2 separate regions of the Homo sapiens genome follow, and region 2 is linked to region 1. A link means that fine-mapping ties the variant in region 1 to the expression of a gene that starts in the linked region. Tissue or cell type: whole blood. Region 1 holds a variant in brackets; the other region holds the start of a gene. All regions are shown on one strand. Distances are between the middles of the regions.

Region 1 (8,181 bases):
AAATGATGTTCAATTAGAATATTTAAAATTAATTCATTTTTATCTTGTATACATTGATTTCCTTTAGTGTATCTAATACATATCACCTGAAGAAAGTGACTCATATTTAATATAATTTTCCAAAGGACAAATTAAATCTCCAGGAATCATTCTGCTATTGACATCACTTTTTTTTTTTTAACAAAGCTGAGATTTATTATTGAGGTTACTTTTTAACAAAGCTGAGATTTATTATTGAGGTCTTGCCTTAAAAAATGATTCATAGAAAAGTCCATTTTGAGTTAAATCTGAGTTTGAGTCCCAGATCCTTTTTTCCCTTCTATTTTCTGGAGTAGGGCTTCTTTTGGTCTTAATTTTTAAAATTTTTATTCTATTTTAGTTTATTGAGACAGAGTCTCTCTCTGTCACCCAGGCTGGAGTGCAGTGGTGTGATCTTGGCTCGCTGCAGCCTCAACCTCCCAGGCTCAAGTGATCCTTCCTGGCTCAGCTCCCCAGTAGCTGGGGCTACAGGCCTGTGCCACCACACCTAGGTAATTTTTGCATCTTTTGTACAGATGGGGTTTTACCATGTTTCACAGGCTGATCTAGAACTCCTGGACCCAAGGGATCTGCCTGCCTCAGCCTCCCAACGTGCTGGGATTACAGGTGTGAGCCACCACGCTTGGCTTTTTGGTCTTTACTTTATATTTGAAATTTGGATACCAATATTAGTACCTTCAAAGAGGAGGTAGAAGTTGGTAACTTATACTTCCTTAAACAGAAAACTATTGGCCAGGTGCAGTGGCTTATGCCTGTAATCCCAGAACTTTAGGAGGCCAAGGTGGGCGGATTACCTGAGGTCAGGAGTTCGAGACCAACCTGGCCAACATGGCAAAACCGAGTCTCTACTTAAAATAAAAAAATTAGATGGGCGTTGTGGTGAGCACCTGTAATCCCAGCTACTTTGGAGGCTGAGACAGGAGAATCGCTTGAACCGGGAGGTGGAGGTTGCAGTGAGCCAAGATTGTGCCACTGCACTCAAGCCTGAGTGACAGAGGCAAGACTGCGTCTCACGAAAAAAAAAAAAAAGAAAATTATTTGAGCCATACAGAATGGCGCCCTTTTGGGAAGTTCTATTGTAGAGAATGATAGAAGAAAATATACTCCACCTCCACATTTTAATGACAGACATTGAGAAAATCTGACTCAGTGTTTTCATACTCTTATTATAAATTATGCAGGAATAACACTGATTTAAGACACCGCAAAGGGGAAAGTAGAATTCTCAGTATATCTGCATTACATTCCACAAAGAAATTAGCATTGATTCCATCAAAAATCTTACCAATAAAAATAAACACTTAAAATATTTAAGTGAATCCATTTTCCTGAGGTTTGAGGTCCAGCATTTTAAAGCATTCCAAATTTAACTGGGCAGCCTTCTATCTAAAAAACTTTTGGTGGCAGTTAATCATAAGAATGATTTTACTTTCTATGTCCACTTTTTAATCTTTGAAGCTTAATTGCTTAGTATTATTTATTAAGCATAAAATGTAACAGAGATTTCTCTGCTAGGATTTTGTCTGTTAGAGTGCAATATATTTAAAATCCTAACTAAATAAAATAGTTACCCTGAGGTGATAAACTGATTTAAAGAGGCTACTGAAAGTTGGAGAATTTTGCTCATGGAAGGATAATGTTGGCATCATTGAATTCACTGAATGTTCACTCTATAGAGGGTGCTGTACTCCATGCTTTAGTTATACAGTTGAGTGAGCCATGGTTTACCCTCCAAGAGCTTAGAGTCCACTGAGGGAGCCAGGACAAATACAGATGGAAATGTATTAAAGGCCATAAGAAGAGAACAGGTGCAAAGCTGTGGAGGTTCAAGGCTGCAGAAGGAGCATCCAGTTGAGGGATCAGGAAAAGTTATATGGAGGAGGTGGCATTTGAGATGAACCTTGAAAGACTGGGAGGATTTCAGTAGGTGGAGGCGGGTGTCAGGAATGTTCAGGCAGAGAGAGCAAAGGCCAGAAAACTGGGACTGTGTAGATGTATTTGAATGTGCTGAACAAGCGTTTTGTGGTTGGTCTGTTGGACATATGTGGCAGAGGCCTGGGAGATGAGGTTGGGAAGGTCAAGCAGGGCACATGGTGGAGAGCGTGAGTTCTAGTGTGAGTTCTTCGATTTCTTTTCTAACGGGGAATGGGGAGGTTTGAGTCGGTGTTTGGTAGCACTCAAAGAGGTAGATTAGGGAGGAGGAGGAGCAGATTGTCAGGAAGGGGCACAGGTAGACAGCTGCAGACAGAGCCCAGTGGAGAGGTTTCGACTAGTAGAGAAGGAAAGGACAGCAGCCTGCTAAACTGGCCCTGCTGCATCGACCCTTGCCCCCTTTCTACCTGCCTTCCCTTCAGCAGCCAGAAATGTTAAAATGCCAATCCTTTGCTCAAAGCTCTGTGGTCTCCCAGCTCATTCATAGAAAAGTCCACTCCTTTATGACCTATGATTTAACCCCTGGTTACCTCTTCGACTTTATCTCCTTTCAGTCCCACTTGTTTATTGTGTGTTCTGCTTCAGCCCCACTGGGCTCATTGTTGGTCCTCAAACGTGCCAGAGAGTCTCACCCCAGGACTTTTACACTTGCCACGCTTGTGCTGGGAATGTTCTCTCACTTCCCTCAGTGCACTTCTCACGTGGCCCCTTATCAGTGAGCCCTTCCTTAGCCACCCTGTTAAAAATCTCTGACCTCTCCTTCAAGGCTTCTTACCTCCATCCTGCCTTTAGTGTTCTCCTTAGCACCCATCACTCACTCACCTACCATGGATTTTACTTACTTATTTATTGTCTCCCCAATGAGAAAGTAAGCTCCATGAAGACAGGAATGTTTTTTTTTTTTTGTCCATTACATTTCCTGCTAAGTTTACACCACCTAGTAGGTACATAGTAAATATTTGATGAATGAATTATTGAATGAGAAAAAGAGGTCATTTCTTTTTCTTTTTCTTTTTTTTTTGAGACTGTCTTGCTTTGTCTCACTCTGTCTTGCTCTGGAGTGCAGTGGCGTGATCTCTGCTCACTGCAACCTCCGCCTCCAAGGCTCAAGTGATTCTCCTGCCTCAGCCTCCTGAGTAGTTGGGATTACAGGCACCCACCCCCACACCTGGCTAATTTTTGTATTTTTAGTAAAGATGGGGTTTCACCATGTTGGCCAGGCTGGTCTTGAACTCCTGACCTCAGATGATCCATTGCCTCGGCCTCCCAAAATGTTGGGATTACAGGTGTGAGCCACTGCGCCCGGTGAAACAGGTCATTTCTTTAGGGTGTGACAACTGATATGGGAATGATGGAGAGAGATACCAGAGGTGATTATAGGGTTTGAACCTCAGATAATGGGGAGAGGAACTAGTTGAGAGAAGCAGAAGGAATAGATTCTGAACTTGAGCTGCCTAAGAACACCCAGAACCATTGCATATGCTCCTTTGCTAGGTGTTTTGGAACAAGTATAGTATGAATGTGTCCAGGTCAGTTTTTGACGCAGCAAAGAGGGATCACTAAAAGCTACATGCCTGGGCCCTGTGCTCTTAGTCTTCTTGCATACTGCCTTTGCTAAATAGCACTTTAATTTTGTGTTTGCAGTTTTATTGAAAGCTGCTGCTTGAATTCCCCATACTTGCCATAGGATGGTTGCTCAGTGCCCTTTATATAAAACCCCTTTCTTTGGATCATTGGTTCTCAAACCCAGCCTACAA[C/T]AGCATCACCACAAAGGCTCCCTAAAACCCAGGTCTTTAGGCCCCAGTCCACAGTCTCCGATTCAGTAGGTCTGGAGTGCGGCCTGAGAATGAGCATTTTTTAACAATTTCCCAGATGATACTGAAGCTGTTGGTCCAGGAACTGCACTGTGAAAACCACAGCTCCAGAACATAGTTAGGAAAAACTTTGTTTTCCAGGAAGAAAGTAGAATGTTTCTGTGTTTCTGATAATGATGATTATATAGCTTTTTGCTTTGATGGCCAGGAAAGTCAGAGTCAAATCTAAAACCCAGGAAAAGTCTTATGGCCACATTTAATTCTTTCTCCCGGTTTGGATGCTCTGCTCTATTTATGTTTTCTGTGTATCGAATTATTTGTTTCTTTCCTGTCTATTATTTTATTGTATGTATGATTTCTGGTAGTAAGCCACATCTTTAGATTTGGACTTGCAGCTTAGGAGGTGAAAGGTAAATGGTAACAGTCCAGGCAGAGAAACCCTGAAAAAGAAAGCTCTTTCTCTATACTCAGCAAAATAACTGTGGGGTGACTCATCAAAGTAGCATCTCCTTAGAAAGATATGTGAACATACTCATGAGTGCTGATTTAAACAAGCAAGGTAGTACTGTGGCCAGGAGCCACTAATGATGTATTTTAGGCCCTGGCAGCCATGTGTACCCCCTTGTCGTAGGCAAGTGTCTCAGGCTCAATGTGCTAAGCTGCCAGGTGACTGTGGCGTGCTAGTGTCATCTAGCTCCTGTCTTTTCCAGGCAAGCAGCAAATGCCATTTGCTGGTGTGTTTTGGAGGGGAGGGAGGACTTAGAGTACCTTCATGGGGCCTTATGATTGGGAAACCCGTGGGATCATTTCTTTCAAAGAAAATGAGCAGGAAATGAGGGCACATAGGTCCTGTGTTGGCCATGTTGCATATGATAAGCAGTCTTGGTTTTGCTTTTACAGAAAACCCTGACTAAAAATAGTTTGATTCTTCTGGATAACAGCATGGAAAAGTTGTATCTGCCAAATGCTCAAGAACATACAGGATCATGCAAGATTCACAGGCCATAGAAGTTACTAAGGTTTTCACTGCAGGACGATCATATTTTTTCACCAGCTTTTTGACGCACCAGAAGGCTTTAAAGAATAAAAATGACAGGAACTGCAAGATTAGAGATAATGGAACATTTAAATACAGTCATCCCTTGGTATCCACGGGGGATGGGTTCCAGAACTCCTTGGTGGATACCAAAATCCACGATGCTCAAGTCTCTGATATAAAAATGGTGCAGTATTTGCATATAAGCTACGCACATCCTCTGGTATACTTTAAATCATCTCTTGTTACTTATAATACCTAATACAATGTTAATGCTATGTAAATAGTTGTTATATGGTCTTGATTAGGGAATAAGGATAATAAAAAAGTCTGATGTGTTCAATACAGATGCACCCATTCATTTTTTTTTTCTGAGTATTTTCAATCTGTGGTTGGTTGAATCCATGGATGCAGAATCCATGGATGCAGAATCCATGGATATAGAGGACCAACTGCACTTTAAGTACTCATAAAAGAAGAGGATCAAGAAGTTTCATGAGATGTTAAAGGCTGTTCAATAATTTGCACCCATGGGATTTTAACTTATAGAGATGTCTGAGTGATGATATGACGAGGTTAATACCGCTGGTAGAATAAATTACTTACACTTCCTAAGAGAAGGGGGCATGCCTTGCCATGCAGGGCCACAGGGGGAGCATCAGGTTGGTCAGGAGGCAGAATCGGAGCAAGGCCAGAGTCTAGGCCACAGCCTTTGTTGGGATATCCTTGGGAAAGAGCTTAGGATTGGCTAGTTTGAATAATGTCCACAGGCTGTGGGCTATAAGGATGATCTCCAGTTGTCTGGTACCTGACCCTGGGTGATTTAGGACAGGTGAAGTGTGTGTGAGTTAGATAAGGAGGTGGTTGGGGCTACCAACTTGGGATTGGTTGGTTTGCTTATGAAAGGTATGCTCGCAGTGGCAGCTGAGCCCAATGCTATCTCTAAGAAGTGGCTATAGTCCTGGGAGGGCAGTCTCTCGCTGGCTGGCAAGCTTTTTAAGAAGTCAAAGCATTATAAAATATAGAAATTTATAAACATGATTAATATGGAAGCTTATGTGTTCTAGCTGGAGTATCTGCTCACTGGCCTCCTTCGGCCATAATTATCACGTGGTGTTCCCTCTGCCTTTCTTTATTACACCACTTTTCATCCTCCCCCTTGAGGAGGCCTTTCCTATGCCCTCAAGGCAAAGGCCTTGGTACTGCCCATGTGCTTTGCAAAGCACCCTGTATTTTGGCAGTATCACATTATTTTAAAATTTATCAATAAAAATCCCCATCTTTTATATAACTATGACCTTCTACTCTGGTTGCTTTCATCTTCACTCTTGGTCTCTGTGCCCAATGTGAATTTTATGCCTTGTTTGACTTTAGTCCCTTTAAGCTGCCTTTGTCTGCTTGTTCGATCACTCTTCTCTCAAAATGTACTTTTATATAAGAAATGGGTGTTATTTAAGACTTTTAGGAAAGGACTAGATGGGTTTCCAAATGGAGCCCAATAATTTAAGTATTGAGATAAATGCCTGGCAATATCTATCCTAAGGAAATTTCTTTTTTTATTTTTCTTTCTTTTTCACAAATATCTTTATTGGACAATCACTACAGGACTAAGAACTCAGGATGCATACATGAAAAGTTACAGACCTTGCCCTCAAAGGGAGGCAGAAAAGAAAGTAGACACAATATTAATATGTTAAGTCCTAAAATGGAGATATGCACATTCTAAGAAGGTGGAAGGAAGAGGAGGAAGGAATCCATGTTGGCTGCCTGAGTCAGGGAGGACGTTCAGGGTTGACACATTTCTGCATCCTTTTAAAATTGCAGCTTTTAAAACAAGATCCTAAAAGTAATACATGTTCATGACAGAAAATTTAGAGAATAAAATAAAAGTGAATTCCAATCCCATTTCTGAAAATAAAATGCTTAACTTTTTTTAATAGTAAGAAAGTATTTATATTTTGAAACTAGATAGATGTGGTGGTTGCACAACATCGTGACTGTACTAAATTCCACTAACATTTTTACTTTAAAATAGTTAATTTTATATTCTGTGAATTTTGGCACAATAAATTATTTTTTTAAAAGGGTATGTATTTTAGTGGAATTTAAACATTAGGAAAATAAACTGCCTGGGCTACTAAATTTTAGATAAATGTTAGTATGTGTGGATATATCCATGTCAAAAATTATGAAAAGCATTAAGAGGGGCCAGTATGTTTGTTTGGTATTTAATACTCATAATTTATACCTGGGTAGAAATGTACATTTTGGGGTAATAAAATTTAGTCAACTGCTTCATAGTAATACTAACTTATCTATTTTGTATAATAATAAAACAAGCAGTAGTCCTCATCCCACCCCCAGTTTAAATTTTAAAAAAAGATGTAAAAGGAACAAAATTAATAGCTTATGTTTACTTTTAGAAGGGCTCTTTAGAAGAACATAAAAGAAATGTTGGTGTGGATGCACAATGTCGGTGGGTAAAAACAAACACACAAACAACACATCCTGGGGAAGGAATTTTCTTGCAACCAGAAAAAAAAACTAATCAGAAAATTAATGAAGGTTAAAAAAGATGGTGAAAAACTAATTAGCACACAGAAATTAGTATTCCTAATTATGATTTTGAATCTTGAAGAAAATGTCAGATTATGCTATGCATTCACTAGTATTACCAGTTAATACAACAAAAATATTTAAAGCTTTGTTGCTTAAAGAGGCAATCACTCAGAAATCTGAAAAATTAAGCATATCTCTTTCCCAGATATGCTGGATAAAGGACAATATTGTATATTTTCTGTTTCTCCTGTTAGTATTTTAATTCTTCTTTAATGGACATTTTAGTTTATAATCTTATCTGATGCCATTAAGGATTCTTTAGCATTAAAGAACCATACTTTTAAAAGGAGCATAATTTTCTATTTTCAGTGAGTTCACCACTGTGGACCACCTTTCATCTTATGACTTATGCTTTCTTAGCTCTTAACCTGCTCCCCAGGAGGAAATTATGTCTCTTTGGAATGGACTCCATTTTTTCACAAGTATATGGCTATTGCTTTAGTACAAATTATTGCAGTGATATAATAAAGAATGTTAATAAATGCATTCCAAGTATATTTTTTGAGTGCCTCCTATAGGCCAGATGAATGCTGGGAGCTGAAGATGTACAGATACCCCAAGGTCCTGCAGTCATAGCTTTTATAGTCTCCTGAAAGGAACAGACAGGTAAACACATGCAGCTACCTAAGAATTGATGACTAGAGCTATGGACCAAGTACATGGGAGCACAGAGAGGGAGCCCCCTAGACTGTCTAGAGAAGCTGTGGATGCTTCCTACAGGGGCAGATGCCAATCCTGAAA
Region 2 (8,181 bases), 86 kb before region 1:
TATAGGGAGCCAAGCCTCCAGGTGTTCATGGAACTGTGGTTTCTTGGGGGTGTGGGACTTGCAGTGCTAAGTCTCTTTGGACACAGTTGGTCACTATACTCCTTTAGCACTTGCAGGGCCCTCAAGCCACCAGGGCTGGAGTGATTGCCTGCATTCATTGTACCCCAGGGCCAGATCTGTTCCTTCTCAGGTTTTACCCAACCTGAAATTCACTTCTAAGGAAGGATATACATGCCAAGTTCTATTAAGGGGCTACCTTAAAGATACAATGTGTCTCCTCTTAAACAACCAACACCTAATTCAATTATGTTACTGGCAACTATGTATTATGTTTTGCACCCACAAAATATTCTGAACCAAAAACTCAGTTCTTGTTGTATCTGGGAGACCTCTGAAGTGAACCTTCTTTAAGAAGGAAGGGAAGGGCTGTGGGAAAAGGCTCCCTTCAGCTTTCTTCTGCCCATTCTCCAGGACGGCCAGATTTTAAACCTGTAGACTGCCCTGGAAATTGCAAAGGCTACATACTTGTTATATGAAGATCAGGAAAGAAATCATTTATTTATTTATTTATTTATTTATTTTTAAAAAGAAGTCATTTATGTATAAAGTCGATGGACTTAGAAGAAGCAAACGTAAGTCTGAAAGTTTGAAGAGGGTTTACAGTCATATGCTTCCTCTCCCAAAATGCCAAACAAGGCAGGCATTCTGGTTAAAGTAACTGTAATTATTGAGTGAAATAAGGATAGTAAACACTACCATAGGGGTAGTAGAACCCCGTGATATGAGTCCATTTCTTTGTATTAATCAGACAATTACGGCTAATGAGGTGTGCTCTTCTTTTTCAAAGTCATATTTAACTGGGAAAGATAAAGCAAAAGAAATGCTTCTTGCTGAATGTTTTCTTCTTGTTTCCTATGTGAGTAAAATTGGACCTTTTAAAATTTTGTCTTTTTTAAAGTCATATTTAACTGGGAAAGATAAAGCAAAAGAAATGCTTCTTGCTGAATGTTTTCTTCTTCTTTTGTGAGTAAAATTGGACCTTTTAAAATTTTGTCTTTTTTAAAGTCATATTTAACTGGGAAAGATAAAGCAAAAGAAATGCTTCTTGCTGAATGTTTTCTTCTTCTTATGTGAGTAAAATTGGACCTTTTAAAATTTTGCTGTAAATCATGATCTATTAGTGGCAATAAAAAAATCCATAGGTTCTTAGAGTTGCATCTACTTTACGGTAACTGAGCATGAATAAAGACAGAGTGTTTCAGGGACACGATTGCTTGATTTTCAAGTAGGGAAGTCCTGTGATGTCCCCTGATGTATCACATTGAATTCACTGATGTCTGGAGCTGAGACTGAAATGAGAGAATGGGACACAGAGCTTGGAAGGAGGTAATAGGAGGTAGGTTGATTCTGTGTGGATTTAGAATCAGCTCAGAAGAGTATTTGGGTTCAGGAAGTGCCACGTATCTTTGCTCACTTTATCAGCAGTAGAGGACTAAAATCTGGGCAGGGTGGCAGCGGGAGTCCTATTGCCTGTTTGTAGAAAAGTGACTGTGCCTGATGGCGATCTCAAGAGGAGGAGACAATGGCAGGGAATGAAGAAATGCCTCGGTTGATAGGTCAGTCTTGCAGCTGCCAGAAGATTGATGCTCTCTCAGCATGGACTTCAAATACACACTGATTGTTCTTTACTGTCAACTGGCCTTAATTGTTCTCTAAGGATCGCTGTAGATACGACGGTTGTTGGACTAAAGGGAGATAATCAAAAGAATCAAGGTGCATTGACGAGTCAGGATGTTATTCAATGGCAGGAGAGAGGGTAGAGAGTCAGGGTTAAGAGGTTAAGTAAGAACATAGTCTTTTGGAGCACATTGGTTCATATTGTCTACAGAGCAGCTGTGTGCCTATATAAAGTTACTTAACCTCTCTACACTTATCACATCTGTAAAATGGAGACAATGCTTTCATTGGGCAAGGCCAAGGGCCAGTGGAGGGGCTTCGACCTGGCAGCAATGGCCAGCATGGTCACTGGTACTTGTGAGCAACCTCCTTTCCTCCATTAGAGCACTATCCTGCTCTGTCAATGGTCACAAGTGCCCTCAGATACTCTTTTTTTTTTTTTTTTTCAGTTATCATCCTGTTTGTCTTCCCTGCAGCCTGTACACATCTGACCCTTCCCTTCTTACAGTCGTCTGCTCTTTTGGCTTTTCTGATGCGTCCCACACCTCTCTGACCCTTGCTTCCAGTCTCCTTCCTTTGGCTGTACGCTGTCCTCCTAGATTCTTCACAATTTGGATGATCTTCCCTATTCATTCCATCCTTTCTCATGCCACCTTTGGGCTGATGACTACTGATCAATATTCCTAGTCCAAACCTCCTGTGTGTCCAGTGGCTTATGGGACACGTACACTGGGATGTCCCCCAAACATTTCAAACTCAACACATGTAGATGAGAACAATCTTTCTCCTAAAGCATGTTTCTCCACCTGTGCTTTTATTGGCTGTCAGGCACGTAGTCACCCAACTTGGTGCTAGAAACTTGGGAGTCATCCTACCTCGGCTGGTTTTCTTCTCTTGCAGATTGCATCAGCTGCCCAGTTCCCTCCTCTCCATGCCCCCTGCCAATGCCTCATCACATTTTGCTTTCAGACTGCCTCCCAACTCACTTCTGTGCCCGCAGTGTGGCCTCACATCTGTCTACCTGTCACTGCCAGAGCCAGCTCTCTGGTGAGGAAGTCAGAACGTCATTGCCCCCACATTATTGACAGTACACAACTTAGGAAACCCGTAGTGCCCCTTTCTACTCAGCCACTCTTGCAGTCTGGTCCTCTGCCCCATCCCTGCAATCTTCTAGGAAGCTTATCTACCTATTGACTGGCAGCACCATGCCCCCGTGCCTCTGTTCTTCCTGCTGCGTGGAAATGAAGGCTAATGGATATTGGCTACTCCAGTAGCAGGCTGCATAGATGTACCACGTTGTTTTAAGCCATTTACATGAGTATTTCCCCCACAAGCCAGAGGTTTCCTCCGACCAAGTATCTTGTCTTGTTTATCTTTGGTCCCAGAATCTACTATGGTGAATGAGACATGGTGTGTGCCCAAGGCACGGAATAAACGATCAGAAATGATTTATTTATTCAGAGTGGGCTGTCAGCTTCAGCCGCTGACTTTTCTAGAGACCGGCTCCCTCGGGGCTTCAGCGCTCTTGGGCCCCCGCAGCCACGCAGGTGAAGGGCAGCGGGGTGGCTGGCTGTGGGAGGGCTGGGCTGGGTGGCTGCCCTCGCGCCTGCGCCCTCGGCTGCTCCTCTCCGGGCGCGTCTCTGTGCGCGTGTGTCTGTTTGGAGCGGAGGAGAGGCTTGGGTGACAGGCGAGGGGTGGGGGGAAGAGTTCAGCCTGAGTCACAGTCTCATTCACTGATTTCTCTTCGGCTGGACGGAGGCTGCCTCCTCACGCGGCTCCCAACTATTCCCGTAGCTCAGTGCCCCCCTCCCGCCGCTCTACTCAGCCAGGCAGACAGACTGACAGACTCGCTAGTGAGTAGCGGCGGCTTGAGCGCCCGGGCAGCGCGGCGGGCTGTCGCCGGCGGTCTTGTCTTCCCACGGGCTCTGTGTGTGTGTGTGTGTGTGTGTGTGTGTGTGTGTGTGTGTGTGTAGGATGTGCGTGTATGTGATGTGCGCGCAGGGGGTGTCCCTGGGATTCCACGCCTGCTCCAAGAGCTCCCTGCCGGGATCCGCGTGTCCATCCGAGTCTGCGATGCTGTGAGGGCGCTCGCCTAAGCAGGGGGTTCGGACGCCCCCCGCGAGCGGCGAGAGTTTGCTGGGATTCCCCGGCTCCTCACGCAGCGGCTGGTGGGGTTCCCCGGGAAGGCGCCTGGGTAAGGCAGCGGCGGGGAAGCCCGGGATTGTGAGTGGCTGGCAGGCCGGGAATCTGGGAGCGGGTTTGGCCCAGCACAGCCGAGGGAGATGCCGGAGCGGCCACCCTTGGCCGCCCAGCCTCTCTGCCTTTCTCCCTTGCCCTTCCTCCTTTCTTTTCTCAGCAGCATCACAAAGGCGCGCTGCAAAATGAAACCCAGTGTAGTGAAGCTCGGCTGTCTCCCACCTGGTGCATATTCCGCCCCCCGTCCTTGCCCCAGGCTGGAGGAGTGGAGTGGGGGTCCCCAAGATTAGGGGCGGGGTCTTACCACGGGGGCACACCTGTTTTCGATTCTTGCTGAATTCAAGCTGGGTGCGGGATCGCGAGAGAGGTTCCAGTACGCCGGTGTGTGTGTGTGTGTGTGTGTGTGTGTGTGTGTGTGTGTGTGGCCGCGCACGCGCACACGCTCCCCAGGCCCACGCTAGCGGGGTGCGCTCAGTCAATAGCACACCTCCCCGCCGGCCCGCGTGCGCCCAGCCGGCTCCGTGGGCTCCTCGCGCGCTCTCTGACAGCGTGCCGGGATCTCTTTGTTTGGTTGTGGCTTCCCTAGCTCTCGGCAAAGCAGACGGATTTTCGGTTTCGTTTGATACCGCGCTCTGGGACTTAGTGCGGGCCACAGCCTCGAATGCCCCTGGTATTTGTAATTGAAGAGTTCTTTCGGTCAGGGGGTTATTTTTGGTGTTGGGAATAAAGAGGCAAGCATGTTGACCTTTTTGCTGCTGCCTTCGGCTTTGAATGTGTGTCTCTGGTGGAGCAGACAGATTCAAATCTAGTCGCGCACACGTGCCAACGCACACCAGTGTGCACACACATTTCTACACACGTAGTTTACCCCCACCTTCTTTTTTCCTTTTAGAAAAATTGGGACAGGGAATACATTGTGTGTCTGTGAAAAAGTTTCCTTTGTTCTTTTGGGCATTTTCTATTTTGAGTAATGGAGTAGGAGTACGGAAAGGCTGCAGTTAGTTCACTCGATTAAAAGACACTGCCTCTGAGTCAGAGCTGCCAGGTTGATAATTATTAACATATAAAAGCAAACGCAATGTTTAAGGCAGAAGGGGCGGGACGGGGGCAGGTCCGCGGCAGACAATGAGGGAGAGTCTCCGCCGACCGCCTGCTGCTTATTGTTCCGGGACTGGAGACTGCAGCCGGCTGCTGCCTAGTCCTCCGGGGCTCCGCTCCTGACTAGCTCCTCCGTCCCTCTAGGGACGGTTCGGGGTCACCTAACCCTGGTCCCCGGGGCGCTGGGACGCTAGCCCCAAGCCGCAGCCGCTCTTCGCTGACCGCCCTCTTTCTGCTTTGCAGGTCGGCAGCTTCACTCCCGAGGGTGCCGCGAGCCCAGGCGGCGAACACCCGGTACCCCTGGCGCAGCGAGGTGGGATGCTGTACGGACAGCAGCGCTAAGTGCCCCCCCACCCCCGGCGCAGGGTGCACTCGCTCCTGGCCGCGGGCCCAGCGGCGGCGGCGGCGGCGGCGGCGGAGGGGATGAGCCCGGGACGCGCGAGGCGCCTGCCTCAAGCTACCGCCCGGAGAGGGACGCCGAGTAGGGCTCATCGCAGTACCGCGCGGACCCCTGCCCCCTGTGGCACGCGGCTGCGGAGCCTTGAAGCCGTGTCTGTGATCAGGATGCACTGGGCGCCTCGCAGCTGGTGAGGATGCCCTGCTGCGCGGCCCTGCGCCCCCAGCCCCAGTCCCAGGTGGGCAAGACTGACTGGGCCCGGCTTCGGCCCCTCGTGCCGGTGGATGAAACGTGCCGGAGTGCTTGGGTGCCATCAGCTATCAAATCTGAATTCTAAGCGCCATGGACGAAGGCACTGGACTGCAGCCCGGGGCGGGAGAGCAGCTGGAGGCGCCGGCCACTGCAGAAGCTGTCCAAGAGAGGTGCGAGCCGGAGACCCTCAGGTCTAAGAGTTTACCGGTCCTCAGCAGCGCCTCCTGCCGGCCAAGCCTCAGTCCCACTAGTGGAGACGCCAACCCGGCCTTTGGCTGTGTGGATTCTTCGGGCCACCAGGAGTTGAAGCAAGGCCCGAACCCGTTGGCCCCCAGTCCCTCTGCCCCGTCCACTTCGGCGGGGCTCGGGGACTGTAACCACAGGGTGGACCTCAGCAAAACCTTCTCGGTGTCCTCCGCCTTGGCCATGCTCCAGGAGAGAAGGTGCCTCTACGTGGTCCTCACGGATTCCCGTTGCTTCCTGGTGTGCATGTGCTTTCTGACCTTCATCCAGGCGTTAATGGTCTCTGGGTACCTGAGCAGCGTAATTACCACCATTGAAAGGCGCTACAGTCTGAAGAGTTCCGAGTCGGGGCTGCTGGTCAGCTGCTTTGACATCGGGAACCTGGTGGTGGTGGTGTTCGTCAGCTACTTCGGCGGCCGGGGTCGGCGGCCCCTGTGGCTGGCCGTGGGTGGACTCCTCATCGCCTTCGGGGCAGCCCTCTTCGCCTTACCTCACTTCATCTCGCCCCCCTACCAGATCCAAGAGTTGAACGCCTCGGCCCCCAACGACGGCCTGTGTCAGGGTGGCAACTCCACCGCCACTTTGGAGCCTCCGGCCTGTCCGAAGGACTCGGGAGGAAATAATCACTGGGTCTACGTGGCTTTATTCATTTGCGCGCAGATTCTCATTGGAATGGGCTCCACACCTATTTATACCCTGGGACCAACCTACTTAGATGACAATGTCAAGAAAGAAAACTCCTCCTTGTACCTAGGTAAGACTTTCCTGTTCTCTCAGATATGTTTCACTCACACTGAAACTTACTTTCCTTACAAAAATCAAAAGGAAACATGTTCTTTCACATTTTCATGTATATTATAGATTAAAGTTCACTTTATTTTACGTTTTAGCCTTGCTGTAGTGTGTTTTCAGTTTGGGAGAGAATCAATTAGTTGAGAGTTCTTGAAACTAATTTTCAGACTCATACTTCATGTTTGTCTTTTCCCAAGTAACATAAACTTTAAACTGTGGGGTGATGCTTCTCTCTGTTGCTACCTACCTATGGAAAAGCTCCAATTTGTCAAGTTTATATTCTAATACACTTGTTGAGGAAGGAATAGCAGTACCTCATGTGTAAAGTTTTGATGATTTTCTGCTTCTATCTGCTGCTGCTTCTGATTTCTGTCCAGAGCAGCAGGGATGGTGGCGTGGCCAGACTACATACATCATGCTTTATTGCCTTCATACCTGTGTTTCTTTTCTTTTTTTTTTTTTTCTTTTTAAGATGGAGTCTTGCTCTGTCACCCAGGCTGGAGTGCAATGGCATGATCTCAGCTCACTGCAACCTCCGCCTCCTGGGTTCAAGTGATTCTTCTGCCTCAGCCCCCGAGTAGCTGGGATCACAGGTACCCATCATGCCTGGCTAATTTTTGTAGAGATGGGGTTTCACCATGTTTGTCAGGCTGGTCTTGAACTCTTGACCTCAGGTGATCCACCCTCCTTGGTCTCCCAAAGTGCTGGGATTCATACCTGTTTTTCTTATACGTCACCTGCACCACTATCTAAAAACAACAACAAAAATTTGAATAATGTCAAATGACTGGCTTACCTTTATGAAGAAGCAACACCACAGGTTATAAGGTTTATCCAAAGCTATTTTTATTGCTGTCAAAAACCCTCAATTGTATGAACTTGGGAGAAGAATCCATTCCTATTTTTCTGAAAAGCCGTGGCTGTGGGATTTGGTGTGTTGACTTGCATAAGTCAGCATCAGTGGACAGGGGTGCTTGAGTTAAGTACAGGGGGCTCATCTGAGGCCAGGCAGCAGTTGCAGAGGGTATGAAAATTTACATCCTAGAAATTTGAGGTTGTTAGCACCTCCCTGTAGTAGCTGGTTCTTAAAAACTGAACTTCTAAGGGATGGATTTGAACCCATAAGAAGGATCAATGGCTGTCATACCAGATGAGATTTTTGTTTTTCTATTTCTGTACTGGAGTGCAACCTAAACAAGCTAAAGGATTTTACTTTACTGAAAAAACTGAAATGGAAGCTGGGTGTGGTGGTGTGTGCCTGTAGTCCCAGCTACTCGGGAGGCTGAGGCAGGAGGATTGCTTGAACCCAGGGACTTGAGACCAGCCTGGGAAACATAGTGAGACCCCATCTCTTAAAAAAATTAAAATGATAAATAAGCAAATACTAGCTATATTTAGCAATTTATTAGCAATGTGCTGATAGGATTCTTGATTTGGGAATAGTAAGATTTTCAAAGGACGGTGTAAATGATATCCAATATAAGAGGGCTATGCTTTGTCCTCAGTATGTTTACTGTCCCCAAAAG

What was found. PIP is the estimated chance that this variant, and not a neighbour inherited with it, causes the effect.
Region 2: it holds the start of SLCO5A1-AS1, and the variant in region 1 is fine-mapped to the expression of SLCO5A1-AS1 in whole blood (TOPMed, PIP above 0.99).

The regions. Positions count from the first base shown.
Region 1 is chr8:69,744,435-69,752,615 of GRCh38, reverse strand. All of the region lies in intron 4 of SLCO5A1 (solute carrier organic anion transporter family member 5A1), which reads left to right. Among named protein-coding and RNA genes, the nearest start is that of SLCO5A1-AS1, 86 kb to the left of the region's middle. The variant C/T (reference allele first, on the strand shown) is at 3,729.
Region 2 is chr8:69,830,203-69,838,383 of GRCh38, reverse strand. SLCO5A1-AS1 (SLCO5A1 antisense RNA 1) reads right to left here and starts at 4,272. Exons shown (of 4, transcript NR_186568.1): 1 at 4,191-4,272. It overlaps SLCO5A1 (solute carrier organic anion transporter family member 5A1), which reads left to right and starts at 3,406. Exons shown (of 10, transcript NM_030958.3): 1 at 3,406-3,530; 2 at 5,215-6,617. The coding sequence starts at 5,711. RefSeq lists silencers at 3,141-3,250, 5,341-5,430 and enhancers at 3,571-3,650, 5,081-5,150.